Linked DNA regions of Homo sapiens. The protein of the gene in region 3 purifies or fractionates together with the protein of the main gene of each other region. This does not show direct contact. Each region holds a gene or a part of one and is shown on either strand. Other genes may lie near its edges. The genes, in order: KANSL2, FNBP1L, DCLRE1B and SLC39A10.

Region 1 (3,567 bases), on a different chromosome or scaffold from region 3:
GCATTATGTTGAAAAGAAAGTGAACATGCGGAACACTTTAAACTTTTATTAATCTACATTCTTAATGTTTTGATATGAAATCATCACTTACCAGTCAAGACAGCTTTAAAGTGTTCAATTAACATGTATCTTTCACATATACATATATACATGTATATATACGTATATATATATACATGTATATATATATATACGTATATATATATATATATATATATATTTTTTTTTTGAGATAAGGTCTCACTCTTGTCACCCAGGATGGAGTGCAGTGGTGCAATCAATCACAGCTCACTATAACCTTTGCTTCCTGGGCTCAAGCGATCCTCCCACGTCAGCCTGCCGAGTAGCTGGGACTACAGGTGTGCACCACCCCACTTGGTTAATTTTTGTATTTTTTGTAGAGATGGGATTTCACCATGTTGTCCAGGCTTGAACCCCTGGGTTTAAGCGATGCTCCCGCCTCAGCCTCACAAAGTGCTGGAATTAAACGCATAAGCTACTGCACCTGGCAATATATTTTAATTAAAGCACTAAAGATACCAACATCAAATAATTTTTTTTTTTGAGACAGTCTTGCTCTGTCACCCAGGCTGGAGTGCAGTGGCACAACCTTGGCTCACTGCAACCTCCGCTTCCCAGGTTCAAGTGATTCTCCTGTCTCAGCCTCCCAAGTAGCTGGCATTACAGGCACCTACCACCACGCCCAGCTAATTTTTATATTTTCAGTAGAGATGGGGTTTCTCCATGTTGGTCAGGCTGGTCTTAACTCCTGACCTCAGATCGATCTTCCAGCCTCGGCCTCCCAAAGTGGTGGGATTACAGGCATGAGCCACTGTGCCCAGCCAAAATTTGTAATTGTTTAAAAAATATAGGCCTATATTGGAGCTCATATGGACCCTCAAATAACTAGTCAAAATGGGCTATACCCTGTCCTCAGCTAATTTTCTTGACAATATTCTCAAAATTCAGTACCCTAGGTTAACCCTTAATTGCCAAAGATCTGGCACGGATCCATATCAACTTGATTAAGCTTTGCTGCCAATTATAAACTAAAAGAATATCTGGCCAGGCACGGTGGCTCACACCTGTAATCCTAGCACCTTGGGAGGCCAAGGCAGGCGAATCACCTGAGGTCAGGTGTTCAAGACCAGCCTGGCCAACATGGCGAAACCCCGTCTCTACTGAAAATACGAAAATCAACCAGGTATGGTGGTGGGCGCCTATAATCCCAGCTACTCGGGAGGCTGGGGCAGGAGAATTGCTTGAACCCGGGAGGCAGAGGTTGCAGTGAGCTGAGATCGTGCCACTGCATTCCAGCCTGGGTGACAGAGCAAGACTCCATCTCAAAAAAAGAAAAAAAAAAAAAAAGAACTTCTAAAAGTTTTGCTAGTGATTAATATATGGTAGACTGTTCTCTGGCTCTGATTTATGCAATCAAAATTAAGAGATGAGGCCAGGTGTGATAGCTCACGCCTGTAATCCCAGCACTTTGGGAGGCCGAGGCAGGCAGATTGCTTGAGCCTGGGAGTTCAAGACCAGCCTGGGCTGTAACATGATAAAACCCTGTCAATACAAAAAATACAAAAGTTAGCTGGGCACGGTGGTGTATACCTGTAGTCCCAGATACTCAGGAGACTGAGGTGAAAGGATCACTTCAGCCTGGGAGTGGGAGGCTGCAGTGAGCTGAGATGGCGCCACTGCACTCCAACCTGGGTGACAGAGCAAGACCATGTCTCAAAAATAAATAAATAAATAAATAAATAAGTGAATAACTTTGAATTTTAAAAATTTTGTTTCACTCACCGTCTGATCATTACATAAATACAAAGAACAAGCTATATACCTTAAGTTTCATACTGAGTAAAAATTTTATTGAAAAGGCAAAACACATAAATTATACTAATTTTAAGTCAAAAAATTATGCTTTATTACTTTTTCGTTTTTAAGACAGAGTCTTGCTCTGTTTCCCAGGCTGCACTGAAGTGGCACAATGTTGGCTCACTGCAACCTCCGCCTCCCGGGTTCAAGCAATTCTCGTGCCTCAGCCTCCACAGTAGTTGAGATTGCAGGCGTGTGCCACCACACCTGGCTAATTTTTTTATTTTTTGTATTTTTAGTAGAGATGGGGTTTCACCATGTTTCCCAGGCTGGTCTCAAACTCCTGAGTTCAGGCATTCCACCCGACTCGGCCTCCCAAAGTGCTAGGATTACAGGCGTGAGCCACTGTGGCCAGCCTCTGCTTTATTTTTAAAAACTAGCTGTTAAGGCACTGAAATACACAGAATATACAAAATTAACTTTAGGACTGAGAGCAAGTAATTTCTGCCAAAATTTCTTCATAAATATAAACAAAAGCCAATATTACCTGTGTATAAGAGGTACTTAACTATATTCTGAAGTAAAAGTGAAAAGAAATTAAGAAAAATCAAAACATGGTTAATAAAACCAGCAAAGGGCCAGGTGTGGTGCACAAGGCCAAGGTGGGTGGATCACTTGAGGTCAGGAGTTCGAGACCAGCCTGGCCAACATGGCAAAACAGCCTCTCTACTAAAAATACAAAAATTAGCCAGGTATGGTGGCAAGCACCTATAATCCCAGCTACTCGGGAGGCTGAGGCAGGAGAATCACTTGAACCTGGTAGGCAGAGATTACAGTGAGCCGAGATCGCACCACCGCGCTCCAGCCTGGGCGACAGAACGAGACTCTGTCTCCAAAAATAAAAAATTAAATAAAATAAACAAATTAAATAAATAAATAAAAATAATATATAATAAAATAAAATTAATAAAAAATAAATTTAAAAATAAATAAAATAAAATAAAACCAGCAAATTACAGAAATGACAAAAGCTAACAGACTATCAGAAAATGTGAAAAGGCTTTAAAAATATGTAACAGTTGGCTGGGCACGGTGGCTCAAGCCTGTAATTCTAGCACTTTGGGAGACCGAGGTGGGCATACTGCCTGAGCTCTGGAGTTTGAGACCAGCCTGGGCAACATGGTGAAACCCCATCTCTACTAAAATACAAAAAAAAGAAAGAAATTAGCCGGGCACAGCGGCGTGCGCCTGTAGTCCCAGCTACTAGGGAGGCTGAGGCAGAAGAATTGCTTGAACCCAGGAGGCAAAGGTTGCAGTGAGCTGAGATCGTGCCACTGCGCTCCAGCCTGGCAACAGAGTGAGAGTCCGTCTCAAAAATAAATACATAACGGTTTCACAAGGTGACTAAGTTACATCTTCAGAAAAATGGGTTATGCCTACATTAACCTGTCTGTAACCTAAAATACTGAGGCCTTAACCTAATATAGAGTTTGTTAAAATGAAATTCACTTTTTGAATACTGAAAATGAGAAAAATAAAAATTGTTTTAAAAAATTAATTTCACTGCACCCTGTCAGAAGAGAATTTAACCAATGGTCTGGAACTGAAATGTACCTATCTGAAGCCATTACTATTAGAAGTTATTAGAAATCATTTGGTGGGGGCAGTAAGCAACCTACTAAATGAATGCCGGCTGGTTCATGTAACAGATGGCTCATTTACTTAAAGATGAATGCGCCAGACTTTCAG
Region 2 (4,367 bases), about 20 Mb from region 3:
GGAAGTGATGGGAGAGGCGGTTAACAGTGTTAGGTGACATAAATAAACGAAGAAATTATTTTGGAATAGAGGCAATGTAGAAAAATGTTAGAAAGTGTTGTTCAATCCTTCACAGGCTTTTCACTGCATGGTACAAAGTTAAGCATTTAAAAATTGGCTATAACCCACTTGGAAGAGGGCATTTGTATGCTTAAAGTGGCCTCAGAAAAGGACAGCAGAGAATTTAGGAAGATTAGCAACTGGACTGTCAGGCGAACTCAGGCTGTTGGCCTCAACTCCAAGAGGGAGCGCAGCTAGGCAAAAGAATACGGATTAAGCGGAAGAGGTTGGAACACCTGTCCAGGCCAGGTAGGGGAGGAGTTTCAATGCTGACAAAGAACCCGTTGGGAGAGCTTCCTAAAACACCCAGCTGTCATGACGCACTGAGGAGTACTCTACTAGTTGACTGTTTTGAAGTGTGTGTGTGTGCGCTTGCTTGCTTTAGGAGACAAGCTATTAATACTAAAGCATATGTTAGGGAGTTGCTCAGCGTACTTGATATCTAGTAGCACCAGCCAAACTAGCTAACAGCCTTTCCATGGAGATAGGCCAGGAAGTAGCTCCATAGAGAAAAAAGGAAGTAGTGGACCTGCCTCCAAGGTTCCGATACTGGGAGGTGAAAGAGATCTGAAGTTCCGAATAAGCTGTTTACACTACCAGAGAAAAATCTGGCTCCCATCCAACCCTCACCCACGAGGTGCCCATTCCAGACATGGGGCAAGCTGCCTTCTCATCTTCCGCAGGTGACAGCTCGGCTCACATTTGTCCACGTCTTCCATCTCGTGCGCTGGCAACATACCTAAATGATTACTGGAAGAGCTGCCTCTTTTTATAATTTCCTGACAGAATTTATAAAATTAAAATATTTAATTAAAGACAGAATCGGGGACATGTTGCCTTCACATTTGCTGTTCAACCTGTGCACATTTTGGTGGTTCCCAAGAATCGTCATGCCAAAGCATCAGGCTTGAAAGGAGAGATCACCTTAAGCATCAAGATTTAAAAAAATAAAACACAACTCTCCTCAGTCTAAACTCTAGGATTTGGATGACGCTTCCCTGTCAAGGTTTCTCCCGAGTGGAGGAGACAAGAGGCAGGAAAGGCAGGTAACTAAAATTGCCTCATGTAAAGGGGCTCAGCGCAGAGGAGGAATGAGATAATAGCGGCGGTGGGGGTCTTTTCCCTTCTCTCCCTTTCTATCTTGGAAACAGGGGTCCGACTGGCAGCGGAGTGGGGGCAGTCCAAGCTCCGGGGTACCTGCAGGAGGAGACTCGACCAGCGAGAGGGGCCAGCGAGGGTGACCAGGTGCCCGCTTGGGGACCCCGCCGGCGGTGGCCAGGCTAGCCCAGGTCCTCCCCGATCCCAGGATGCACTGCGCCCCGCCCCCTCCCCGCGCCGCGTTCCGCCTCCCCTCGGCCCCGGCCCCCTCCCGCCCAGCGCGGGGAGGCGGGGACGCGTCGGCGGCGGAGGCTTCTCCAGTCGCGTCTTTCTCACTCACTGGGGAGCCCGGCGGTGGCGGCACCTTTCGAGGTAGACCCGCTGAGCTGCTAGCCCGCCGGCCAGCGAGTGAGAGGTCGGACAGACTGTGGAGCCGACAGACTGAAGGACAGCGGCACCGCCAGACGGCCAGAAAGTTCCGCCATGAGCTGGGGCACGGAGCTGTGGGTGAGTCGGGGAGAGGGGCGCCCCGCACGGACCCCGGCCCCTGAGAAGCGCGGGTTGGGCGGGCGCCGCGGACCCTCGGCGGTGAAAGCGCGCTCCGCCGTCCTCGGTCCGGCGCTGGCGGAGGGTGAGGGTCCCGCTCGTCTTTGTGTGCAGACTCCTCTTCCCTTCTCGGCCGGGGGTCTAGGGGGCCGCTAGTCCGTGCTCCCGCCTTTGCCGCCGTGGTGCAGCTCGGGCGGCGCCCGGGACGGCCGGGGGAGCAGCCCGCGGGCTCCTGCGTGCGCCGTGATCCCCTCTTGTTCCTTCTCCCTCCTCCACCTTCACTTTTCCCGACGCCTGGCTTCGCGCCCGGCGGCTCCTCTCTTCCTTTGTATCTCTCCTCCCGGAGGCGGGGGAGGGGGCCCATTGTCCCCAAGGGGCGCTGTTCGAGGGCGGGGAGGGGACCGGCCGCGATTCCTCGCCCGGGCCAGGTCCGCGGGGCTAGGGCGTCGCCCGTCTGGGGCGGCGCCGCCCAGAGCCCTCGCCCCAGGTATGGGGACCCAGGCGGCTTTGTTCGGAGCCCGGCCTCGGGCCAGCCAGGCCCAGCCCACACGCACATTTCTCTCTCCCTGCCTCAGTGCTTCGGGCGGGCACAGCTTCGAGGGACTCCGGTTTGGCCACCCCCGGCTGCAGCCTTTGGGCTGGTGGGTTGGTTTTGGGGGCTGAATTAAATCGAGTGATCGATGAGGAAGCTAATTTTACCAAAAGGAGCGTACGGTCTCCCTGTTGCTTTACTTCCCTTTCCGTTCTTTATTCTCACTTGTTCTTTCTCCTTCGTTCTCTCCTTTCCTTTCCTCCTTGCCTTTCTTTGGCACAGGAGGCTCCAGACAATGCCCAGTGTCTGGCCAAGGTACGGGCGGAGGGTAATAGGTCGGAGAATTTGCTCCTGGCGCCGGCGCGGAAGGGTCGAGGTGTGGAGGGCAGTGATTTCTCAGGTGCGGAGGGCAGTGATTTCTCAGGTGCGGCCGGGAGAACTGGGGGCGTGGGGGCGCTGTCCCGAGAGCCGCCTGGCCTCAGCCACTCCCCTTTTTATTCCACCTGTGCCTGTTTTCCGTGCCTTTTGTTCGCGAGGATCTCGTGAAATCACTGCAGAGAAAGGGGAGAAATAACTTTTGAGTATGTGTGTGCCCAGCTAGGGTGGGAGTGAAAGCCAATGGGTTAATTGAAAGGCAAAATGTTTTCTTATTTTTCACGTCTACTCATAGATTGGGAATCTTAGAACTGTGAGACTTTAGAGTCCATCTAGTGAATGCTTTACTTAGCCAGCCAGGAATCTCTTGTGCAACATTCTGTACAAGTGCTTACCCAGTCTGAAAACACACCACCCAAGAGAAAATACCTTAGGAGCCCCTTCATTCCGTTTCTTAGATAGCATTAATTGTTCTTATATTGGGGAGGATTGCATGGTAAATGAATTACATAAAGTTTAATTCTTTTACATTGGTTAGTTTCTCAGGCATTATTGGCCTTTTTCCCTTACACTTTGTGCATTCTATAATTGATTATAGTGAATTATCAATGAAAGGAAATGGGTATAGTTTTATTTTAAATTTTTAAATTTTTTATTTTTTTCATGCCTACCAGAGTGCATTCATTCGTTTTTATAATTACAAAATATTTTAACTTTTGCCTACTTAAATGACTTGTGCTTCAAAGGAAACTAAAATGTAAGTAGAATACTTCTAAAAAGTAAACATAGGAAAACAGTGGAGGCATGTTATTTAGATTTAACTCTTAAGATTTTTAAAAAATTCACTTTGTATCACACTAAAGAATAACAGTTTTAAGGAAAAACATTTTAGTGAATAATAAAATGTGATTTTAAAAGTTTTTTTTTTAAACTTATGGTACTACCTAAGGAAACGATTCCATTCCTCTACTGTCTCCTATAATTTGGTTACTTTCAGCATTTAAAGAGTTTCTCAGCAATCTGAAAAGATAAACTGTAGAAGAGATGGGAATTTTTGTTCTAACTAAAATTTGCTTTGTGTCCTTTGGAAATTCTGAAAAAGATTTTTAATTTTTCTCAACATTTAATACATCTCCATATTTTAAGATTTTTAGTTTGAGGATTTGAGGGAAACATTTATTAGAAACTAAGTAATGTAGAGTGAACTAATATCAACTTGGTGTCTGAAACTTAGATAAGCAGAACTTGGTGTAGAGGACTATTGTTGGGACTAGAAGAAACCTTAGAAAAATTTGAGTATGCTTCCTCTTTTTACTGTTCTCAGTTTTGAAAAAGGATTATACTTCTAATGGATTGTAATGTAATACAAACAACCTGTACTGTGCTCTTGCCATTGAGGAATTTGAGGTTGGGAAATTCTCTCGAAATTTTGGATTTAGAAACCAGTTCTCCTATTATTTCATATTTAGAATCACATTACTGTCCCAAAGAGTTAATTATTGAGAATATGTTGTTACAGAAAAATGATATGTAGCCATGCACTTAAACCTGAGTCTGTTTCTTGTAACAATCATTGGAATTTTTATTGCTATTTTAATGCTTCTTAAGTCTTATGTTAAATTTGAGAAAAAAAGGAATTCAATAGAACGGCTCTAATACTGACTTTGGGGGACTTTTGTAGTGATGTGCTGAGTGGATCGTGTCAGACTTTGGTTGC
Region 3 (3,198 bases):
TGTGCCACTGCACTCCAGCCTGAGTGACAGAGCTAAAACCTGTCTCCAAAAAAAAGCCAAACAAACAAATGCAAACATGCTACCAACAACTAAATTCCTCAAAGTCTTTTGCTTCCCCTCCCCTATCTGAATGCATATAGAACCCACTTGAAGGAACAGGTGTGACACAGCATGTGCCAAGAGTAGACGGGCTCCCTTGTTGCTAGAAGATAACGCCAATATGGGAACCCCTGTACTGAGAACTACCTTATCTCTCCCAGCCACCTTCGGCCGCCTAGAAGTCAGACAGCTAGAGGATGCTAGAGGAAGTCCAGCTAAATTTGCCCACACAGTTTAGTAGCTATTTATTAAGTTAACACATGAGATGATTTTCCATGTGTTAACATGTACCGTTCTTGTGATCTCATTTAAACTAATGAGTCTTCAAGGTATTTTAATGCTATCCTGTCTGCAGAAAAGATGGTCAGGAAACCTTTCTGGAGGGCAATTCAGCACAATTGGTATCAAGAACTTAAAACTATAATCTAACTCCAGTAATTTACTTTAAGGAAATAAAAATGCAAAATATATGCATAAGGTTGTTCATTGTAATATATGTAATTAGAAAAACAGTACACAAAATGTTGAATATGGGAATGGCTTAGTTAAGGTATACTCACATGATAGGGTATTATACAAATATTAAAAATGGCATTTTTGAACAATATCTAATAAGTGAAATGCTTAAGATATCAAGAAATTAAAATGTAGGCTATAAAATTCTATACAATATTACCTCAACTTTGAAAAACATTTACATATTTAATACATCTACATGCATAGAAAAAAAAACTAAAAGATAGCAAATCAATTAATCTACGAGGAATTAAAATTTTTTGTTTTTTTGACTTTCAAAGTTTCTTATGTTATATACAGATTAATTTCTTTCAAGAACCAGAAGCTAAAGAGAACCAAAATCTGAAAGACCCATCCTGTGGCAGTCACTGAGCTAGGAGAATTTTACCAATTATTCAATCTCCATAGTAATCATGAGAGGTAGGAATCTCAAGTCCATCTTACAGATGAGGAACTAGGCTCCACAATTTAAGTAATTGCTCAGGGTGCCACAGATTCGAGCCTAGGCAGTCCCCATGTTTCCTGCTGCACCAAATGCCTCACCTGCTGTGGCTCCTAATAGGACGTTGGGAGACTTACAACAAAGGTCATTGACAAAACAGAGCTGTGTATAGCTTTCCCAAGAGCAATTGCTTTCTAAACTCTCTATTTCTCTCTCAAAGCAGAAAACTCTTTTAAATCCCCTGGACAAGAAATGGAATCTTCTTCACTGCTAGGGCTCGAGGTTCCATCCCAAAGCAGTTTTGATCCAGACGCCCAGCTCCACAAGTCTGTGCCCTCTCAGAGCCTACTCCCTCATAGCCGTGGTATCAGCTATCCTGCTTACTAGTTTGGCATTTTGTCAGGTTATGAGCAGAAGGACAGGGCAGACTGCACACCCCCACCCCTTCCCGCCAGCTGGCTCCTTGGTCTCTTCCTTGGATACTAAAACAAACAGGCTGTGTGCACTGGCTCCCTACATAATCCAAGGGGTGAGGGGAGCAACAAATATCCCAGCTATGTGAACAATTGGAGGAATATCTGACAACACATTTGATATTTTGTAACTGTTTCAGCCAAATAGGGTCTCCAGGCTGGGGAGTCCCTTCACACCCAAAGCCTTGTTGTTCAGCTGGGCTCTAGGTACTGCCTTGGAGAGAGCTGCCCAACCCCCCAGCTGGCTCTGTTCCACATGGATCCCAGTGATACTGGGATACTGCACATCCTCATGAAGGACATAGAGGTAGAATTTTCACTACTGTTCCAAGACCTCTTCATCGCTTCCTGTTCCCTCCCAGAGGCAGAGACAGGAAAATTATTTGGATGGTCACAGCAAGTCAGTGACGTTCAGGATTGAAGCATGCAGCGCCATAGTTCATAATTTTAAAAATAGAACTCCCTAGGGATTTTGATCTGAGAAGAGGGAGAAGGGGACATGGAGAATGGCTCATGACACCACAAAACAGCAACAGCAATAACCTGGTCCTTTTTGATTCAGACTCTTTACCTCTTTCTGTACCCACATAAGATGATTGCATGTTCACAAAAGTTTGAGAAATACTGGGTTAAACAAGGTTAAACAGATTAAGTTACTGTAGGACTTCAAAGAACTTTTAATTTGCTCACGCATACTCCAAAGATTTTATAAAAAAAGTATTTCTTAAACTTAGTTATAAAAAGAAGGATTCCATAGGCACGAGGACCCCAGTGAACAAGTTTTGGGAAGTGCTGCTCCACGGTGGGCCCATAAGAGTCTTGTAAAGATAGAAAAGTAGGCCCCAAAAACAAACTCTTTCCCACCAGCCATCAGTTACTATCTTCAAAACTGCAGTGTGGGCTCAATGTTGTCATTCTGTACTCTCCTGTCTTCAGCAGGGTTTATGGTATTTTTCCACTTGCTGGTCAAATCTCCTGGAAGAATACCCTGCCTGGAAAAAGTTCACTGGAGTCAGAAGATATTTGAGTGCTAGACCCCTGAATTCAGTAGCTAGAAGAGGGGTGCCCTTGCTGCTGTGGGACAGGGGAGAACCATGGCCCATCCAGGCACTCTGATTCCCTGTGGCTTCTGGACCTCCATCATCATCTCCCATGGGTACCAAGGGGGACCCTAAACCAATTTCCTCCCTGGTTTTTTGAGAAATAAACTCCTCATCTGTAGACCTTAAGTGCACTGAAAATCCCAGTGGGGCCGTCAACATAGTCACCCTCTTTTGAGACTCACAGAAAGGCACTGCCTTGTTCCATTCTTTGCTATAGAGATCTGGGAACAACTGCTTCTTGATCCGCAAAGGATGGTGGGAAGGCTGCTTTTCAAGGTCCGCAGGCCAGGGAGAAAGTTTCTCTTTCTTGGCCTTCTTTGAGTCTCTGTCAGCTTGAGATTGATCAGCACTTTCCTCAGGGGATTCAAACACAACACCTTGGGTTCTCGGCCTCTTTAGCCTCCTTTCTAACAGCCAGAGAAGGCTTGGTTTTCTAGAGGAAGAACTCATGTATTGCTGTACAGAGTCCGGAATCAGGGGCACGGAGATCCTGGGGCTCAGACTGTCCTGAAAGCCTCCACAGGGCCGCCGACTTACAATGGGCACCACCTGGCAAGGCTTCAGT
Region 4 (3,567 bases), on a different chromosome or scaffold from region 3:
GATTCTCATGCCTCAAGCCTCCCAAGTAGCTGGGACTACAGGCATGGGCCACTACGCCTGGCTAATTTTTGTTTTTTTTTTTTTTTCGAGACAGAGTTTTGCTCTTGTTGCCCAGGATGGAGTACAATGGTGTGATCTCGGCTCACCTCAACCTCCGCCTCCCGGGTTCAAGTAATTCTCCTGCCTCAGCCTCCTGAGTAGCTGCGATTACAGGCTTGTGCCACCACGCCTGGCTAATTTTGTAGTTTTAGTAGAGACGGGGTTTCTCCATGTTGGTCAGGCTGGTCTCGAACTCCTGACCTCAGGTGATCTGCCTGCCTCGGCCTCCCAAAGTCCTGGGATTACAGGCATGAGCCACTGCGCCCGGCCATAATTTTTGTATTTTTAGTAGAGACAGGGTTTCACCATGTTGGCCAGGCTGGTTTTGAACTCCTGACCTCAAGTGATCTGCCTGCCTCGGCCTCCCAAAGTGCCGAGATTACAGGTGTGAGCCACTGCACCTGGCCTTAACTTTTTCTTTTTTACCAAGGTAATGGATGTAAACCATTTCTTTTTTATTTTAGTTGGTATTTATTGGTTTACCAATTTAGTTTCTCTCCACATGCAATACTACTTTGGTTTTCTTCTTTTATAAATTAAAAAACAGTAGCTTAAGATGTAAATACTCATTCACATGGAAAATATCTGAGGGAAATGGAGATGGCATTAATTTGAAAGAAAAAATGCTAATGCCACCTTTCGAATATGCAAGGGATTTCTTCATGTGTTTTCTAATTTAATTTTTCTGAAAACTCACCTGGCTATGAAATGTCTGTCATTTGACTGTGCGTAATTGTCTTGATTTGTAGTATTTGCTCATTTTGAATAGAACTTATCATATAAATTTCTTGAAAAATCAATAACTTCTTACATAAAGCAGTAAAAATATATTAGTGCATACTTGGTGCTAATTCCTTGGGGCTTGATTCTGTATGGTTTCATTTACCTTGCCAACTTCAGACACATAATCTTATCTCTTGTTCATGCCCATTATCCTTTATCCAGACCAAGTCATCACCGCCTTTGTGGTGTTTTTGCTTAGACAGTTTTCATAGTCTTTATATCTCTGGTTTTATTCTGTTGTAGTATATCATTGCCAGATATATCTGCTTAAATGTGATGTTCTTATGTAATTAAAGTCTTCCAGTAGCTTTCCTGACATATAAAATAGAGCTGGATTTTATATATTTTTTTCCCCCTGTAACAGGGTCTCCCTCTGTTGCCCAGGCTGGAGTGCAGTGGCTTGATCACGGCTTAGTGCAGCCTTGACCTCCTGGGTTCAAATGATCCTTCTACCTCAGCCTCCTGAGTAGCTGGGACTACAGGCGTGCACCACCATGCCCAGCTAATTTTTGTATTTTTGATAGATAGGGTGTTGTCATGTTGCCCAAGCTGGTCTTGAACTCCTGGGCTCAAGTGATCCACCTCCCTCAACCTCCTAAAGTGCTGGGATTACAGGTGTGAGCCACCACGCCCAGCTATGAGTCACACTTTCAATGACCTTCACTTCTTCTCTCTACCTAGCTTTTTAGTGTTACCTGCAGTACATCCTGTTACATGTTTTTCATTTCAACTAAATGCAATTCACCAAATGTGTAGTGTGGGTGCCTGAATCTGTTTCCTTGTTTATACCATTCTCCTACATGGCTGGCCCAAATACTTCTATTCCTAGTTTATCATGTTAAGAATCTTCAACTTTATTACTGTCTTTTACCTCATGCCTTGGATTACTGTTTCCTCTTAGTTTTATTGTTTGCTTTCTCGGGGTCCTTCACCCATTTTCTTGTTAGATGCCGTATTTCTTAAACTGTAGTTTTTTAATGCACAGATACGACGTCTTATGCTCTTCTCTAACTATCACATACTGCTGTTGGTCTATCACATACTGCTGTTAGCCTAACTCCACAAATCAAGGCTATCAGTTTTTATATATGAGTTAACATGTTGCCTCATATTTAATCTTTCACTTAAAAACTATTTTTAGTAATAGACTTGGATAATCACGCATACACCTCCATAATATACTAGAAAAACCTCCAACTTTCCTTCCTGTTCATCTACCCACTACCTGGTAAATGGAGTGTCAGGCTACTTCAAGTTTAAGTGTGGTTTTACTGAATTGCCATAACCTTGAAGGATTCACTCAGACACAGAATTGAAAACAAGTTGGAGATTAAGGATGGTTACCTTCTTACCACCCTTTTTCTGTCTGCAATTTCTCATTGAAGGAGTGACACACAAGGGCTGATAACCACATGTAGAACAAATGCATTACATACATTAATAGCTAGGGAAGCCCTTGATACCCAATGCAGAGCTCTGGTAAAAAACTGGAGCGGAGAACTCTGCTTGGACCAGGAACCCCTAGTGAGACATTCAGACCTCAGATGTCTACCTGTTTTATCCCACAAATCAGAGGCTGAGATGTTGCTACTGCTATGAGAAGATATGTCAAGCCAGAGTATACTGAATTTTGCTAGAGGGAAAGGAGTGGGCTTTTAGAAAATGTGCATTTTTCCTAATGTTAAATTGATGTAAACTATACCATACTGTAGCTGGATAGGCTACTAGGGAAGAAACAGTGTAAAGAAATGACCCAGCTTCCTCTTCTGGAGGTGACAGAAAGGGCTCTGGTCCTTGTATCTATCAACAAGTTAGGAAGTGGTCTAGGGACCATAAATAAAGGAAGTAAAAATATGATTGTGGAGCCTAGTTTTTGCCTTAAGGCACAGCAAAGGGCACTTTTTGTACAATAGGACCAGGTCAGTGTCCCTACTCTGATCAGATCATCTATTCTTACTCGGAGAGGAACAGGATGTGGAGAAAGGCATACAAGCTTCTTCCTCAGAACTCCCAAGCACAGGGAAAATCATTCCTCTATAGGTTGAGTTAGAAGCATGGGCAGATAGAGCCAGGGAGAAGTCCACTTCCCACTTTCTAGGTTAAGATGTTGACAAAGTAGTATAGTATGTCACATTTCAGGATAATTTATTTGATCTAAAACCTATTTTGCCCTGTTACATTTTTCATTATGAATTCTTAAAACAATTCTGAGATTTCCATACTGACCTCAGACCCTTGGAGGAAAAACATGTTTTCCAATTACATTGCAATACATGGAGACTGACCCTCAGTTGGTAATTCCAAGTTCTAGTGTTCCCTTTCTGAACAGATTGCTGTTTTTCCCGTGGTATATTCACTGAGACACAGAATTGAAAACAAGTTGTTTTAGAGATTAATGATGGTTACCTTCTTAGCACTTACCCCTTTTTCTCTCTGCAGTTTCTGCAGGTGTTTTTTGTAGTTGTGTTTAGGAATGTGATACGTAAAGACATATCCTTAGAACCATAGAATAACATATAGTTCAGGGAATTTGACTGTAAGAGACATGAAGAAATTGAAAGCATTTGAGGAAATAGCAAACTCACATCTCATTTTGTGTTTGCTCTCTGGTGTGGTAATGGGTTAAATTGCCTGAATTACTAAGTCACTACTCTCTTTTCTGTGTTTGCCGAACTTATGTAGCTG

The links.
Region 1: the proteins of DCLRE1B (region 3) and KANSL2 purify together in Homo sapiens (affinity purification with mass spectrometry; one large-scale study listed by BioGRID and IntAct). This does not show direct contact.
Region 2: the proteins of DCLRE1B (region 3) and FNBP1L purify together in Homo sapiens (affinity purification with mass spectrometry; one large-scale study listed by BioGRID and IntAct). This does not show direct contact.
Region 4: the proteins of DCLRE1B (region 3) and SLC39A10 purify together in Homo sapiens (affinity purification with mass spectrometry; one large-scale study listed by BioGRID and IntAct). This does not show direct contact.

What each region holds. Positions count from the first base shown.
Region 1 is NC_000012.12:48,672,215-48,675,781, forward strand, and holds part of KANSL2 (KAT8 regulatory NSL complex subunit 2), read right to left. Parts: intron 1-3,567. UniProt on the Homo sapiens protein: Non-catalytic component of the NSL histone acetyltransferase complex, a multiprotein complex that mediates histone H4 acetylation at 'Lys-5'- and 'Lys-8' (H4K5ac and H4K8ac) at transcription start sites and promotes transcription initiation.
Region 2 is NC_000001.11:93,446,602-93,450,968, forward strand, and holds the start of FNBP1L (formin-binding protein 1-like), read left to right. Parts: upstream 1-1,516; 5' UTR 1,517-1,680; coding exon 1,681-1,704; intron 1,705-4,367. UniProt on the Homo sapiens protein: Required to coordinate membrane tubulation with reorganization of the actin cytoskeleton during endocytosis. May bind to lipids such as phosphatidylinositol 4,5-bisphosphate and phosphatidylserine and promote membrane invagination and the formation of tubules.
Region 3 is NC_000001.11:113,911,456-113,914,653, reverse strand, and holds the end of DCLRE1B (5' exonuclease Apollo), read right to left. Parts: coding exon 2,463-3,198; 3' UTR 568-2,462; downstream 1-567.
Region 4 is NC_000002.12:195,719,721-195,723,287, forward strand, and holds part of SLC39A10 (zinc transporter ZIP10 precursor), read left to right. Parts: intron 1-3,567. UniProt on the Homo sapiens protein: Zinc-influx transporter. When associated with SLC39A6, the heterodimer formed by SLC39A10 and SLC39A6 mediates cellular zinc uptake to trigger cells to undergo epithelial-to-mesenchymal transition (EMT).